2 linked regions of the Homo sapiens genome follow. The main gene of each other region encodes a partner of the protein of the gene in region 2 in a complex. Each region holds a gene or a part of one and is shown on either strand. Other genes may lie near its edges.

Region 1 (7,868 bases), on a different chromosome or scaffold from region 2:
TTGGACCTTGGAGGGTGGGCAGGTGTCATGGGAGCTCCTGGCAGAAGGGGTCGGAACCCTCAAAGATGGTTTGAGGAATGCAGCTGGTGATGGTCTGACTGGGCCGAAGGGGAGGATGAGGCCACAGATGCTGAGAGTGATTCTCTAGCAGCCGGCGGGGCCGAGGGCTCTTCAGACAAGGCTCTGGCCACAGAGCCAAAACCACTGCTCAGAGCATTTGGACCAAGCTGCGGTTGATGGCCCTGGGCTTAGATCCCCACCTTGGCAGGATCTGTACTTCCGGGACATTGCCAGTTGGATTTCTGAGGGCCTCACCTTAGGCTTTTGTTCTAGGACTTCTTCAAGTGAGAAGCAAAGTATTTTAGAACCTTAAGTTGTTAGCACGTGATACAGTTACCTTCTTGTTTCTTCAGAAAGTGGAGTTCTGTCCGCTGCGAGCCTGGAGATGGGGAACAGGAGCCTGAGTGATGTGGCCCAGGCTCAGGAGCTTTGTGGGGGCCCCGTTCCAGGCGAGGCTCCTAATGGCCAAGGCTGTTTGCATCCCGGGGATCCCCGTCTGCTGACCAGCTAAACACCAATTTCTTCCTGCTTTTCTCCACTTGGTTTGGAAAATCACACAGTTTTCAGGCTCCATCTGTTTGGAGAAAATACATTCTGAAGCATCCCCAATTCACCTTCTAAAAACTCATGTGCAGGTTTGATAAACACCAGAACAGAAGACAGTGATGCTGTATTATTTTAGATTTATTACATAGATTTGGAATTCACTTTTTTCATGACCTAGAAAAAAACATTCCAGTGTTCAACTGTTTTATATTATTAAAGGGCTTTTAATTTGTGAACTTCTGAAGGCATGAGTGTTTTCTCTTTCTACTTTTGTATATGTGCATGTTTTGTTTCCTCTGACTTGGTATATGCTCATCTGAGTGACGGATATGTGAAATTTGTAGAACTGGTTAGTCAAATGGCCAGACTATTTCATTAATTTATTTCCTCAAATGCTTTTCAAATTAAAGCACCTTTGTTAGTAAACAGTTATCCTGACTTGGATGTTGTGAACTGTTCCCGTGTGCTAAGTGTGAGAAATACCTGGTTTCCTCATTTTTCCATGTGTGCACCCCACTTGCCACAGTTGGAGAGAAGTCTAGCCTTGGCCATTCTGGGGTTCCTTTTACAAGCAGGCCCTGCCAGGGGTGGGCCTAGGGCTCTGAAGCTTGCTCCATCTGGTAAGACGGGGGAGGGTGGCTTCCTCAGGGACCTCCCTTCTGTCTGTAGCAAGACTCTGCTGTCAAACACGTGGCTGGCTCACTGCCAGCAGTCCCCAAATATCCCATGGCCAGCCAGCTCCCACCTCTGTCCACATGAGGGGCTTCCTGGCCCAGCCCCCACCTCTGGTCTGTGTGAGGGGCTCCAGCCCTGTATTCCTCCGAGCTGCTCAGGTTCCAGGGTGTTTGTCAGATACTCAACTGGCTGCTTCCCTCCCTTAGACTCCAGTCCATCCCCCTCAGACAGACTTGGCTAGGTCAAGTACTTAGGATTGTTTTATTTCATGTCTGTGTTAGAGAGGAGGGAATAGCTAGAGGTGAGAGCAGAACCTTTCATTTTTTTCCCCTGCTGAGACAGTAGGAAAAAAACCAAAAACCTAAACCCCTACCCTTTTCCCACATGTCATCACTTGCAGACGGTTTTTCCACATTCTGAGACTCCTGCCCAGAACCCTCTGGAAGCTGCCTGGGAGCCAGGCTGCCTCCTGCGTGGTTCTGAGCTATTTCTAGTGGTTATTTAGGAGGCACTCAACTGTTTTGGGATGATCAGAGTTAATTTTAGTCCCATCTAGTAGGATATGGGCTATTGCCATCCCTTTCTTCAGAAAGTGCTGCCTGAGCCTCGCTGCCACCACAAGTGACTGATGGAGTTGGTGGGGGAGGACCCTCCTCTATCAGGGACATTCAAGGTACAAGGGTTTTACAGGTGTGTATTAAAGTCAGTGATGTTCACTCTTCAGAATTCAAAGAGTTTTCTGATGTTTTAAGAACCCCTACCTTGTAGTGTTTATGGTGCTTATAACACAGAGGATGTTATAGAATGGTGTTTGTTTGTTTGTTTATTTATTTAGAGACAGAGTCTTATACTGTCGCCTGGGCTGGAGTGCAATGGTGCGATCTCAGCTCACTGCAACCTCCGCCTCCCAGGTTCAAGCAATTCTGCCTCAGCCTCCCAAGTAGCTGGGATTACAGGTGCCCACCACCACGCCTGGCTAAATTTTTGTATTTTTAGTAGAGACGAGGTTTCACTATGTTGGCCAGGCTGGTCTCAAACTCCTGACCTCATGATCCGCCCGCCTCGGCCTCCCAAAATGTTGGGATTACAGGCATGAGCCACTGCGTTCGGCCACAATGGTGTTTGCAGACAGGTGTTTAATGGGTTGAGAATGCATAGTCTGAGCTTTCTAAGAACTGTTACTTCTTTATAAGAAAAAATAATTAAAGCTCATCTGACTTCATGGCAGTGGAAGGTCTGGTATTTTGCAAACGTTCTTTGCAGAAAGAACCCAGAGAGGAAAGTTCTGAGGCTGAGGCTGACAATTTTTCCACTCCATTTTTTTTTTTTTTTTTAAGATGGAATCTTGCTCTGTCACCCAGGCTGGAGTGCAATGGTGCAATCTCGGCTCACTGCAACCTCCGTTCCCTGGGTTCAAGCAATTCTCCTGCCTCAGCCTCCCGAGTAGCTGGGATTACAAGTGTGCGTTATCACGTTACCTGGCTAATTTTTGTATTTTTAGTAGAGGCAGGGTTTCACTATATTGGCCAGGCTGGTCTCGAACTCCTGACCTCAGGTGATCCACCCATCTCAGCCTCTCAAAGTGCTGGGATTACAAGCATGAGCCACCGTGCCCAACCCACTGCATATTTTTAAAGTATGGTTCGAGAGAGCAAAGTTTTCACACAAGACTGAAGGTGATGTCAAATTTTTTTTTTTTTTTTTTGAGAAGTACTTTCGCTTTTGTTGCCCAGGCTGCAGTACAATGGCGTGATCTTGGCTCACTGCAACCTCCGCCTCCCAGGTTCAAGTGATTCTCCTGCCTCAGCCTCCTGAGTAGCTGACACTACAGGTGCCCACCACCATGCCTGGCTAATTTTTGTATTTTTAGTAGAGATGGGGTTTCACCATGTTTTCCAGGCTGGTCTCAAACCCCTGACCTCAGGTGATCTGCCCACCTCGGCCTCCCAAAGTGCTGGGATTACAGGCGTGAGCCACCACACCCGGGCTCATGTCAATTTTTCATAGTAATCCCCATGTCCCAGCTGTCATTTTATTTCTAGAGCTAGACAAACTGTTCAGGTTCCTTGATTCTTTCCAGGGAGTTGGGGTGGCTCATGGGATTTTCTTAGGCTTTTGGTGTAGCATTAACACAATTTATTGTGAGATGTTGACAGTTGAGTATTTTGAGAAGAAAATTACATTATAAAAAACAACAAAGGCAACCAATTTTTTTTTTCCTTTTGTTTTTTGAGACAAGGTCTTGCTCTGTTACGCAGGCTGGAGTGCAGTGGTGCAATCATGGCTCACTGCAGCCTCAACCTCCTGGACTCAAGTGATCCTCCCACTTCAGGCTCCTGAGTAGCTGGGACTACAGGTGCACGCCACTACTCCCGGCTAATTTTTTATTTTTTGTAGAGACAGGATTTTCCTATGTTGCTCAGGTTGGTCTTGAACTCCTGAGCCCAGGCAATCCCCCCCACCTCAGCCTCTCACAGTGCTGGGATTACAGGCGTGGGCCACTGCACTCTGCCAAAGCAACCAATTCTTTAGTTTCTACACGGATTAGAACCTTCCTTTTCTTTGACATAATCCTTTTGTCAAAAGACAGTTTTACATAAATTGTTTGGCACCCCACTCCATGCCTGGCGCAAAGCAGATATGTAAATGTGTGCCCATGCAAGAATCAAATCCTTTATGTCAGTCCAGAATGAAGTAGATAAAACAAGAAATGCTTATAAATTAAGGCTTTGGTGGCAGGATTTAGGCAGCTGAGAAAGCACACCTTTTTATTCTTCACAAGCATCACCTTGTGAAAGATGCCTACGCTCTTAGGTCGAGAGAGGAAATTTAAGAATGAATACACATTGGGCTAAAACTTTACTATATTTCATCCTAAGAGGGAACCAGACCTCGAAGTTGGGAAGGCTCTTGCTTATAAAGGGAAATGTGCCGTAATTCCTGTCATTTTACTTGGGTCTTTTAAAAACGGCAAATTCTCATCTTCCACTGGCTGAGAGTAAAAAGAAAGAAAAGCGGTAAAGACTTCTTTTTGTGCGTAGGTGGCCCCGGTGTTCACGCTGAATACAGATTTTTACACAATAAAATCTTAAATATCTCTACATGGAACGGAATCCATTTTTCCTGCCTCGGGAAGGATTTCTGCGCTCTCGGGTGAAGTTCCCGAAGCAAGGAACCAGTTCCCCTCTACCTGTACTCTTGAGAGGAATTCTCAGGTCATCTGAAACACAAGTATGGGCCAGGACGACCCATTCGTTCACGCGGCCCAGAGCTCTGCGAAACGGGACACGGCAGTGCAACGGGAACAACCGGACACCGAGGCCCCCGAAGGCTGAGGCCGCGGCAGAGGCGGCGGCACGGTGACGGGCGCGACTCCGGCCTTCCGGCTTTCTAAGGGGCGGCCCCGGGACACCTGAGCCCCGCGGGGCCGTGAACGCTCAGCACAGCTCCGGGCCGGAATCACGATCCACCACACCGCGCTGGCGCTGGGAACGGCGTCGGTGACGGACCGGGGGCCGGAAGTGAAGGACGGGGGAGGACCGCTGCTTCCGGCGCCGTAACTGCTGCCATCTTCTCCGCGCTATGGCTGCGTTCGGCCGTCAGGTAAGCTCGAGCTGGGCGCGCGGGCTTCTCCGGGTCGCAGGCGGGCGGGCAGCGACGCAGAGGAACCGCGGCCGCCGAGTGTTTCACGGCCAGGTCGTGGAGCCCTCCCGGAGGTCCGTGCACGCTGACCTGGTTTTGGCATCCTGGACCCGTGGCTCTGCTCAATTATTGTGGGATATAGAGTTGACATTTTTTTTTTTTGAGACAAAGTCTCGCTCTGTCTCCAGGCTGGAGTGCAATGGCGCGATCTCGGCTCACTGCAACCTCCGCCTCCCGGGTTCAAGCAATTCTACTGCTTCAGCCTCCCAAGTAGCTGGGATTACAGGCGCCCGCCACCATGCCTGGCTAATTTTTGTATTTTTAGTAGAGACGGGGTTTCACCGTGTTGGCCAGTCTGGTCTGTAACTTCTGGCCTCAGGTGATCCACCCGCCTCGAACTCCCAAAGTGCTGGGATTACAGGCGTGAGCCACCGCGCCCGGCCTGAGTTGACTGTTGAACAAGAGTTTGAACTTCACAAGGAAGATAACATGTACTTTTCATTAAGAGGAAGCGGAATCAGCATAGAGGTCTTTAGGCTTGAGCCCAGTTCCACGGGCCGCGCCCGCTGACCCCAGCGACTGCCAGGTGTTCCTGGCGGAGGGAGCATCTGGACAGGGGAGGCTGGAGAGCAGCCAGAGCTTGGGCTTGGCAGGGTGGCCCCAGGGCGACAATCGATGACGCTGGAGAAGGGGTTGGGACCGATGTGAAGGTTTTAGAGCAGGGGTTCCCCAACCCCCGGTACCGTCCCTTGCCTATTAGGAACCAGGCTGCACAGCAGGAGGTGAGCGGCAAGTGAGCCAGCCAGACTGTATTTACAGCCGCTCCCTTCGCTGGCATTACCGCCTGAGCTCCGCCTCCTGTCAGACCAGCCGCCTTAGATTCTCACTGGAGCGCGAACCCTATTGTGAACTGCGCCTTTGAGGGGTCCAGGTTGCGCTCCTTATGAGAATCTGATGCCCGATGATCTGTCACTGTTTCCCATCAACCCCAGATGGCACCTCCTGGTTGTAGGAAAACAAGCTCAGGGCTCCCAGTGATTCTACATTATGGTGAGTTGTATAATTATTTCATCTTATATTACAACGTGAAAATAACAGAAATAAAGTGCACAACAAATGTAATATGCTTGAATCATCCTGAAACCCCTCACCAGTCTGTGGAAAAATTGTCTTCCATGAAGCCAGTCCCTGGTGCCAAAAACGTTGAAGACTGCTGGCTTAGAGTGCCTGGATGATTTGTGCATAGTTTGTTAAGCACCAGCCTGAACCACTGAAGACTTTTGAGGTCAACTGGAATTGTGTATGCAAGTTGACTAATTACTGTGACCCTTGAACAACACAGGGGTTAGGGGCACCAGACCGCCCCCACACCAGTTGAAAATCAGTGTATAACGTTTGACTCCTCCAAAACTCAACTACTAATAGCCTACTCATGACTGGAAGCCTTACCGACAACATAAACAGTTAACACATATCTTGTATATATATATATTGCATTCTGTATTCTTAAAGTAAGCTAGAGAAAAGAAAACGTTATTCAGAAAATCATAAGGGCAAAACCCCGTCTCTACAAAAAATACAAAAATTAGCAGGGTGTAGTGTGCACCTGTAGTCCCAGCTACTCAGAAGGCTGAGGTGGGAGGATTACCTCAGCCTGGGGAAGTCAAGGCTGCAGTGAGCCATGATTGCACCACTGCACTCCAGCCTGGGCAACAGAGTGAGACCCCCGTCTCAAAAAACAAAAAGAAAATCCTAAGAGAAAATGTATTTACTATTCATTAAGAGGAAGTAGATCCTCATAAGGTCTTTAGGCTGAAGAGGAGGTGAAGGAGAGTTTGGTCTTGGTGTCTCAAGGGTGGCAGAGGCGGAAGAAAATCCACATATAAGTGGATCCAAGCAGTTCAAACCCTTGTTGTTCAAGGGCCAACTCTGTATCCCACAAGATTCTTCTCGTGGAATGAATTTAAGAACATGAATCTGGAAAGTAGTCTGAGGTCCAGACTTTTCTGGCACACATGACCAGGTGGCCTAGAAATAGTTTTTCCCTCTTCCTCCATGTCCCTGCTCCCATCCTTAAAGCTGCAAAAGCTAACAATATTGTACCTGCTTGACTCCCATCTCTGTGGCCTTGAAATACCCTGTTCTTTGTGAGCTTCCTTCTCTGTAGGCTTAAGTTCAGATAGGATTTTGCAGATTGCTTATAAAAATTGTATGTTTGTGTGGAACCAAGGCAGTAAGTACTCTGGCTCAGAAGTCTTATGGTGTCCATTACACTGGAATAGTGAGGAATTAATTGTCTTTTGGTCCTGTGTCTTACAGGTCCTTGATTGGCACCGCCTGATCCCCCTCACCTGGGCCTGTATGGCTAGGCAGACTCCTCATCTTGGAGAACAGAGAAGGACGACAGCTTCTTTGTTGCGCAAACTGACTACAGCCTCCAATGGAGGGGTCATTGAGGAGTTATCTTGTGTTAGATCCAATAACTATGTGCAGGAACCAGAGTGCAGGAGGAATCTTGTTCAGTGCCTCCTTGAGAAGCAGGGGACTCCTGTGGTACAAGGGTCCTTGGAGCTAGAGAGGGTCATGAGTTCCCTCCTGGACATGGGTTTCAGCAATGCCCATATTAATGAATTGCTCAGTGTACGGCGAGGTGCCAGTCTTCAACAGTTGCTGGACATCATTTCAGAATTTATTCTCTTGGGTCTGAATCCAGAGCCTGTGTGTGTGGTCTTGAAGAAAAGTCCCCAGTTATTGAAACTGCCTATTATGCAAATGAGGAAGCGCTCCAGTTACCTGCAAAAGCTTGGGCTTGGAGAAGGTACAAGAAGTTGCAGATTTTGGCTGGGTGCGGTGGCTCATGCCTGTAATCCCAGATCTTTGGGAGGCCGAGGCAGGCAGATCACTTGAGGTCAGGGGTTCAAGATCAGCCTGGCCAACATGGTGAA
Region 2 (7,537 bases):
TCCGGTTCCGACTTTTGCCATCATAGACTCTTGCTCTTGCCCTGACCTCTGCTAATTTGGGGACTCTCACCCTGGTGCTCATTTATGCTAAGTTGGGGACTCTCACTCTGGCCCTGACTTGTGTTTTGTTGAGGATTACTGCTCCGGCCCCAGCTTCTGCTAGGATAGGGACTGCTTTTCTGACTTGGACTTCTGCTCAGATGATGCCTCTTGCTCCAGCTCTGACTTCTGCCATCATGGGGACTCTTGCTTTGGCTCCGGCTTTGGCTTTGGTGGGAACTCCTGCTCTCGCTGTCACTACTCTGGCATTTGCTAATAATAGTCGAACTACAGCTGGGATTGGTGCTACAGCTGGAATCCTTGGATGAAGGCAAAGGGCAGCTGTAGGGGATCTGCAGAGGCTCTTTGCAAGGGCCTTGAGAGGCCACAGGGTAGATATGGAGGCCACAGGGGACAGTATCAGGGTAGGCCCGGACTCGGGGGACAATGGGTAAACTTTGAGGATCAAAGGGTGTTCTCAAAGGGATAAAAGAATAGATGTGGGTAGAACAAGGAGGCATCACAGGCTGACAACGAGGTTGGGGTGGGCCCCTGGGAGTGCTATAGGTGTCACACAGGGGCACAATGGGAGGGGGGCCTGTCGAATGATTGAGGGAGCCAGACAGTGGGCAGGGATGGGGGGTGGAGGGAACCACAGAGCATATATGGGTATTGCAGGGGGGCCCTATGGAGGGTCCATGGCGGCTGCTCTGAGCATAACTATTGGCCGAGACAGGATCACAAGGAAGGCAGAGGGGAAAAGAAGTGGGGATAACACTTTTGAGAGCTCTAGGGACCACAGTCAGTAAGGTAGTCCCTGGGGGAAGTTCTTTGGGGCTGGAATTTGAAGGAGTTGTGATGTATGGCTGCATACAAGAAGGACCAGAGAGGCAGGAGGGAGGTGGGGGACAGGTGTGGGCCTTAGCGGGCTTGGGCTGGCCAGAAGGGGTGTGCTGGGGAGTGTTGACTAGGGAGAGACATTTGTGGGGAGTATGTGACTGTCTTAACTCTGGGGACTTAGGGGACTTCGGTTGGGGGGAAACTGGAGTGGGAAGAGGGGGTTCATTATAGCTTCTGCGGGGAAGTGACTGGGGTGGAGATATAAACTGGTTGCCCAGGGGTGAAGGGAAGGAAAGGACAGAATGAGGACCATGGGGACGAGATGGTTCCTGGGAACAGGGGGGACCAGAAGTTGTGGTGTCCGGGGTTAGGATGAGGTAAGAGTTCCCAGTTGCCTCCCAGGAGAGAAGGGACTCAATGCAAGCCTTCCTGGGAGCCTGGGACTGGGGTGAGCAAGGAGAATCAGTACTCCCGGGGCACAGGCAGATGGCATAGCAAGGACTCCCAGGGGTAGGTATGTAGGCCTCTGAGGAAAGATGGGAGTAATGATAAGAGCCCTCCTGAGGTGAGCTGGGAGAGCCAGGCATGCCTGCCTGAGAAGAGAGTGGGAAGCCACAACAATTTTTCTCAAGGGGCAGGTCAAGCTGTGGTTTGGGTTCACAAGAGTCTAGAGGCTTAAGGCTGCCATGGTAAAAGCTGCCAGTAGGTGGGGAAGATGCTGGGGAGAGAAGGGGGTCATTATAACTTCTCCCTGAGAACCAGTGAGAGGGCAGAGAGATCATCAGCCCAGTTTCCAAAACTCTGTGAGAAAGGGTTGGGGAGGCCATAGGACTAGTTTCCACCGGCCGGCGAGCAAGAGGAGGTGAAATCGTGAGGCAAGTTCCCGGGGTCCTATGTGTAGGAGGAGGCGAAATCATGGGTCCAGTTTCCAAGGGTACATGAGTGAGCTGAGGGGAGGTCACTGGGCTCGTTCCCGGGGACTGATGAGCAAGGGGAAAGGAGGTTGCCGGGCTGGTTCCAAAAGCTGAAGGCCATCCGCTAGAGTAACAGAGATTAGTGTGCTGGTCACAGTACGTGCCTTGAAGACAGGGACGCCGCATTCTGGAGGGACTCATCCAGCTGCAATAAGGTGTCCGCTGACAGAGAGGGGGTGACCCCGGAATGCTGAACTGCTCAAAATAAGGGCTGGAGAGTGGGGAACCCGAGTGGCAGGGCTAGCGGCAGTAGGTCCTTTCCAGGAGTGGGGAAGAGGACTCAAAAGACCATCTCCCTGAGTGCGAGGAAGGTTGTGGGGGTGGAAGAGATGGTGGAGGTGGCGAGGGAATCGGCTGGGGTGGGCAGGGGGGCGTGCCGGTCATAGAAGAAATTCCAGGGCTTCCAGTGAGGCAAGAAAAAGGGTCTCTGGAGAAGCAAGGAGAGTCCAGAGGATGAGAGGATTCGTTGCACCTTTTGCCAGGGTTTGGGCCGGCAGTATGGACAGGGTGGTCGCTGTAACCTTGCCCGGTCGCCAGAGGCAGCTCGAGGTTGAGGAAGGGGCTGAATCCTTTCCTGCAAGGCGGCGGAGACCCAGGAGTGCAGGCAAGGTCGCTATGGTATTTTCCGAGGGGTGAGGGCGACCGGGCTGGAAAATCAATGAGGAAAGGAGAAGTCATGTGGGGGAAGAATGGGCAAGGGAAAGGGGGAGGGGAGGGAGGGAAGTAAAAGGGGGAGTGGGGGACAGAAAGGTAGGTGGACACAGCTGGGGAACAAGAGACAGTGACATCACTAAAAGAATGAAGGCGAAGGTGATGACGCAACTTGGGCGGAGTCAGGAGACTGCAGACGTAACAAGTGGAAGACACTAACGCTCGGGACATAGAGTGCGGACAGAGGCGGTGACGGAAAAGACGAGAGAGGGAGGTGCCTAAGGACGTTCCGTGGAGTGCTTGGGAAAGACGCTAGGCGTTCTAGAGGGCCGGGAAACGGAAAGACTGGAGAAGTTTCCACCCTCACTTTTCCCTCCTGCGCCCCCAGCCGGACCTTACCCATTTCTTCTTATATCGATGTCTCCGCGGGACCGTCGCGAGGTCCACACGCTTCAGCAGCTCCCGGACACCCCTCAGTGTCAGCGCAGCCATATCGGCGTGCTCCACGGGGTAATTCCGACCGGAACCGCGACAGGAGACTCGCGTGTTCCGGGGAGGTGGTGAGCGCCACCCGGCGGGACACGAGCGAAAAAAGGGAAAGGAAATACATCTGACGCTCTCCCAGGACTCCGCGCGCCTCTACAGACTCCGCCCAGCCAGGAGTCCCCTGAAGGCTGCTGGAAAAAGAGCAACCTGGCACCCGGAATAATGACTCTGCCTGGATGCTTAGAGCAGTGCGAGGGACTCCCAAGAAGCCCCTAGCCCACTTGGGGGACCAGGGAGGATTAGGAGTTGGTGGTTGAGTACCGAAAGAGTTAGCTAGGCGAAAAGGGGCGGGAAGGGCCTCCTAGGCCGAAATTGCATGGAGGAAGATCCTTAGGTAGAGGAAAATGAGACCAGGCTTGTAGGCAGAAGCAGATTTGCAGTGAAACAAATGAAGCTTAAGTTTCGGGACCTGGCCGGGCGTGGTGGCTCACGCCTGTAATCCCAGCACTTTGGGAGGCCGAGGCGAGCAGATCACGAGGTCAGGAGATCGAGACCCTCCTGGCTAACACGGTGAAACCCCGTCTCTACCAAAAATACAAAAAATTAGCCGGGCGAGGTTGCTGGCGCCTGCAGTCCCAGCTACTCGGGAAGCTGAGGGATGGCGTGAACCCGGGAGGCGGAGCTTGCAGTGAGCCCAGATCGCGCCACTGCACTCCAGCCTGGGCGACAAAGCGAGACTCCGTCTCAAAAAAAAAAAAAAAAAAAAAAAAAGTGGAGGCGTGAATAACCCACCCCTTGTTTAGCGTACCATCAAGAAATAACCATAAAAATGGGCAAGCAGCCCTTGGAGCTGCTCTATCTATGGACTATCCATTCTTTTATTCTTGTACTTTAATAAACTTGCTCTCACTTTGCATTGCGGACTCGCCCTGAATTCTTTCTTGTGCGAGATCCATGAACCTCTCTTGGGGTCCGGATCGGGACCCCTTTCTGGTAACAATGCCTGTAATCCCAGCCAATCTCCCTGCCTTTTGATCTCCCTGCCTCACTCCTACCCACCCTGATAATTGGCTGTTGAATGATCATTTAAAAACACAGTTTCTGATCATGTCCCTCCTCTCCACTGGATCCCTACTGGTGATGTCAAATGTTGTGGGGCCTAACGCTTCCGCAATTTGAGAAGACATAGTTAAGAAAAATAATACAAAACTTGGCCGGGCGCGGTGGCTCACGCTGCCCCCAGCCGAAAGCTTTTTCTTATTTGGCATTTGAATGTGGAATTTTGGAATTTTCTTATTGGCAACAAATACTGTCAGTTATTTTCCTTGAAGTGACAGGCTCACTTTGTTCATTTTTCAAGAAAAAGGCTGGCCGGCACTGTGGCTCATTCCTGTAATCCTAGCACTTGGGAGGCCGAGGTGGGTGGATCACCTGAGGTCAGGAGTTGGAGACCAGCCAGGCCAACGTGGTGAAACCCAGTCTCTACTAAAAATACAAAAATTAGTTGGGCATGGTGGCTCATGCCTGTAATCCCAGCTACTTGGGAGGCCGAGGCAGGAGAATAACTTGAAACCAGGAGGCAGAGGTTGCAGTGAGCTGAGATCATGCCACTGCACTCCAGGCTGGGCAACAGAGTGAGACTCTGTCTCAAAAGAAAAATTCTAGTATATTAAAATATAATTGATTTTTTCTGTTGACCTTGTATCCTGAGACCTTCCTAAACTCAATTATTACTTTTGGTAACTTTTTGGAAATCTGTTCAGGTTTTCTATGCATATGGTCATGTCTTTTGTAAATAAAGACACTTTAACTTCTTTCTTTTCTATCTATATCCCTTTTTTTTTTCTTTGCTTTATTCCACTGGCTAGGACTTCCAGTACACAGTTGAATGTAAGTGGTGATGGTAGGCATCCTTGCCTTGTTCCCATTCTTAAGAAGAAAGCATTTAGTACTTCACCATTATATATGATGTTAGCTGTAGTTTTGTGTGTGCGTGTACCTGCATGTGTATAGATGTCCTTTCTTAGGTTTAGAAAGTTCCCTTCTGTTCCTAGTTTGCTGAGATTTTAAAAAATCATGATAGTTGTTGATTTTCCTTAAGTTTTTTTTTTTTTTCTGTTAAGATGATCATACAGTTTTACTCCTTTTTTTTTTTTTTCTTTTTGACGGAGTTTCGCTCTGTCACCAGGCTGGAGTGCAGTGGTGCCATCTCGGCTCACTGCAACCTCCGCCTCCTAGGTTCAAGCAATTATTCTGCCTCAGCCTCCTGAGTAGCTGTTATCACAGGCATGCACCACCACGCCTGGCTAATTTTTGTATTTTTAGTAGAGATGGGGTTTCACCGTGTTGGCCAGGCTGGTCTCGAACTCCTGATCTCAGGTGATCCGCCCACCTCCCAAAGTGCTGTGATTAGGTGTGAGCCCCTGCGCCCAGCCAGTTTTACTTCTTTATTCCATTACTATGATGCATCATGTTGACTGACTTTTCAATATGAACCAACTTTGCATTCTTGTAAAAAACACATCAATTCATGATACAAATACAGTATTTTTTTTCTTTTAGACAGAGTCTTGCTCTGTCACCCAGGCTGCAGTGCAGTGGCACAATCTTGGCTCACTGCAACCCACGCCTCCCAGGTTCAAGCGATTCTTCTGCCTCAGCCTCCTGAGTAGCTGAGACTACAGGTGCAGGCCACCACGCCCAGCTAATTTTTATATTTTTAGTAGAGTCAGGGTTTTGCCATGTTGGCCAATCTGGTCTTGAACTCCTGACCTCAGGTGATCCACCCACCTTGGCCTCCCAAAGTGCTGCGATTACAGGTACGAGCCACTGCGCCCAGCCGATGATACAGTATTCTTTTTAAATATTGTTGGGATTCTTTTTTGTGTGTGTGTGTGTGTTTTTTTTTTTTTTTGAGACGGAGCCTTGCTCTTTCACCCAGGCCGGAGTGCAGTGGCGCTATTTCTGCTCACTGCAAGCTCCGCCTCCCGGGTTCACGCCATTCTCCTGCCTCAGCCTCCCGAGTAGCTGGGACTACAGGCGCCCGCCACCGCGCCCGGCTAATTTTTTGTATTTTTAGTAGAGATGGGGTTTCACTGTGTTAGCCAGGATTGTCTCGATCTCCTGACCTCGTGATCCGCCCGCTCCGGCCTCCCAGATTGTTGGGATTCTTGGGTCTGAGTTAATGAGTCGTATTTGCCTGCAGTTTTTTCTTCTTATAAAGTCTTTGTTTGATTCTGATATCAGGGTAATGCTGGCCTCATAAAATGAATTTAGGAAATGTCCCTTCACTTCTATTTTCTTTTTTTTTTTTAATTTTTTCTTTTTTTGAGTTGGAGTTTCCTTCTTGTTGCCCAGGCTGGAGTGCAATGGCATGATCTCGGCTCACTGCAACCTCCGCCTCCCAGGTTCAAGCGATTCTCCTGCCTCAGCCTCCTGAGTAGCTAGGATTACAGGCACCCGCCACCGCACCTGGCTAATTTTTTTTTCTTTTGTATTTTTAGTAGAGACAGGGTTTCACCATGTTGGCCAGGCTGGTGATTTTTTTTTTTTTTTTTTTTTTTTTTTTTTTTTTGAGACGGAGTCTCGCTGTCGCCCAGGCTGGAGTGCAGTGGCGCAATCTCGGCTCACTGCAGGCTCCGCCCCCGGGGGTTCACGCCATTCTCCTGCCTCAGCCTCCCGAGTAGCTGGGACTACAGGCGCCCGCCACCTCGCCCGGCTAATTTTTTGTATTTTTAGTAGAGACGGGGTTTCACCGTGTTAGCCAGGATGGTCTCGATCTCCTGACCTCGTGATCCGCCCGCCTCGGCCTCCCAAAGTCAGGCTGGTGATTTTTATTGATATATAATAATTGTACATATTTTGGGAGTACATGTGATATTTTGATACATGTATATGATGTATAATGATCAATTATGAAGGGATTGGGATATCCATCACCTCAAACACAAACATTTATCTTTGTGTTGGGATCATTATAATTCTTCTAGATATTTTAAAATATACACTAAATTATTTATAATTATAATTTCCCTACTTTACTATCAAATACTAGAATTTATTCCTTCTCTCTAACCATATTTTTGTACCTATTAACCAACTTCTCAATTTCTTTTTTTTTTTTCTTTTTTTGAGGAGTCTCGCTCTGTCGCCCAGGCTGGAGTGCAGTGGTGCCATCTCGGCTCGCTGCAAGCTCCACCTCCTGGGTTCACACCATTCTCCTGCCTCAGCCTCCCAAGTAGCTGGGACTACAGGTGCCCACCACCACGCCTGGCTAATTTTTTATATTTTTTAGTAGAGACAGGGTTTCACCATGTTAGCCAGGATGGTGTTGATCTCCTGACCTCAGGTGATCCGCCTGCCTCGGCCTCCCAAAGTGCTGGGATTACAGGCATGAGCCACTGCGCCTGGCCTTTTTTTTTTTTTTTTTTTTGTGACGGAGTTTCCTTCTTGTTGCCCAGGCTGGAGTGCAATGGCACATCTTGGCTCATCACAACCTCCGCCTCCCAGGTTCAAGCAATTCTCCTGCCTCAGCCTCCCGAGCAGCT

The links. The genes of interacting proteins can lie anywhere in the genome.
Region 1: the proteins of NSUN4 (region 2) and MTERF4 are in contact, whole or in part, in a crystal structure (PDB 4FP9), measured with the Homo sapiens proteins. Residues at the interface, in NP_950245.2 of Homo sapiens: Pro61, Ser62, Arg64, Val65, Leu68, Ser69, Glu70, Arg136, Gly137, Asp138, Ile139, Arg141, Asn367, Leu368, Met369; in NP_872307.2 of Homo sapiens: Tyr267, Glu269, Arg270, Leu271, Gly272, Arg273, Glu311, Glu312, Val315, Phe316, Lys318, Leu319, Arg322, Glu323, Glu326.

What each region holds. Positions count from the first base shown.
Region 1 is NC_000002.12:241,099,269-241,107,136, reverse strand, and holds the start of MTERF4 (transcription termination factor 4, mitochondrial), read left to right. Parts: upstream 1-4,849; 5' UTR 4,850-4,863; coding exon 4,864-4,884; intron 4,885-7,242; coding exon 7,243-7,741; intron 7,742-7,868. Other genes in the region: PASK (PAS domain-containing serine/threonine-protein kinase), read left to right, coding at 414-571. UniProt on the Homo sapiens protein: Regulator of mitochondrial ribosome biogenesis and translation. Binds to mitochondrial ribosomal RNAs 16S, 12S and 7S and targets NSUN4 RNA methyltransferase to the mitochondrial large ribosomal subunit (39S).
Region 2 is NC_000001.11:46,336,286-46,343,822, reverse strand, and holds the start of NSUN4 (5-cytosine rRNA methyltransferase NSUN4), read right to left. Parts: upstream 3,017-7,537; 5' UTR 2,997-3,016; coding exon 2,904-2,996; intron 2,646-2,903; exon of another isoform or gene 1-2,645. UniProt on the Homo sapiens protein: Mitochondrial RNA cytosine C(5)-methyltransferase that methylates cytosine to 5-methylcytosine (m5C) in various RNAs, such as rRNAs, mRNAs and some long non-coding RNAs (lncRNAs).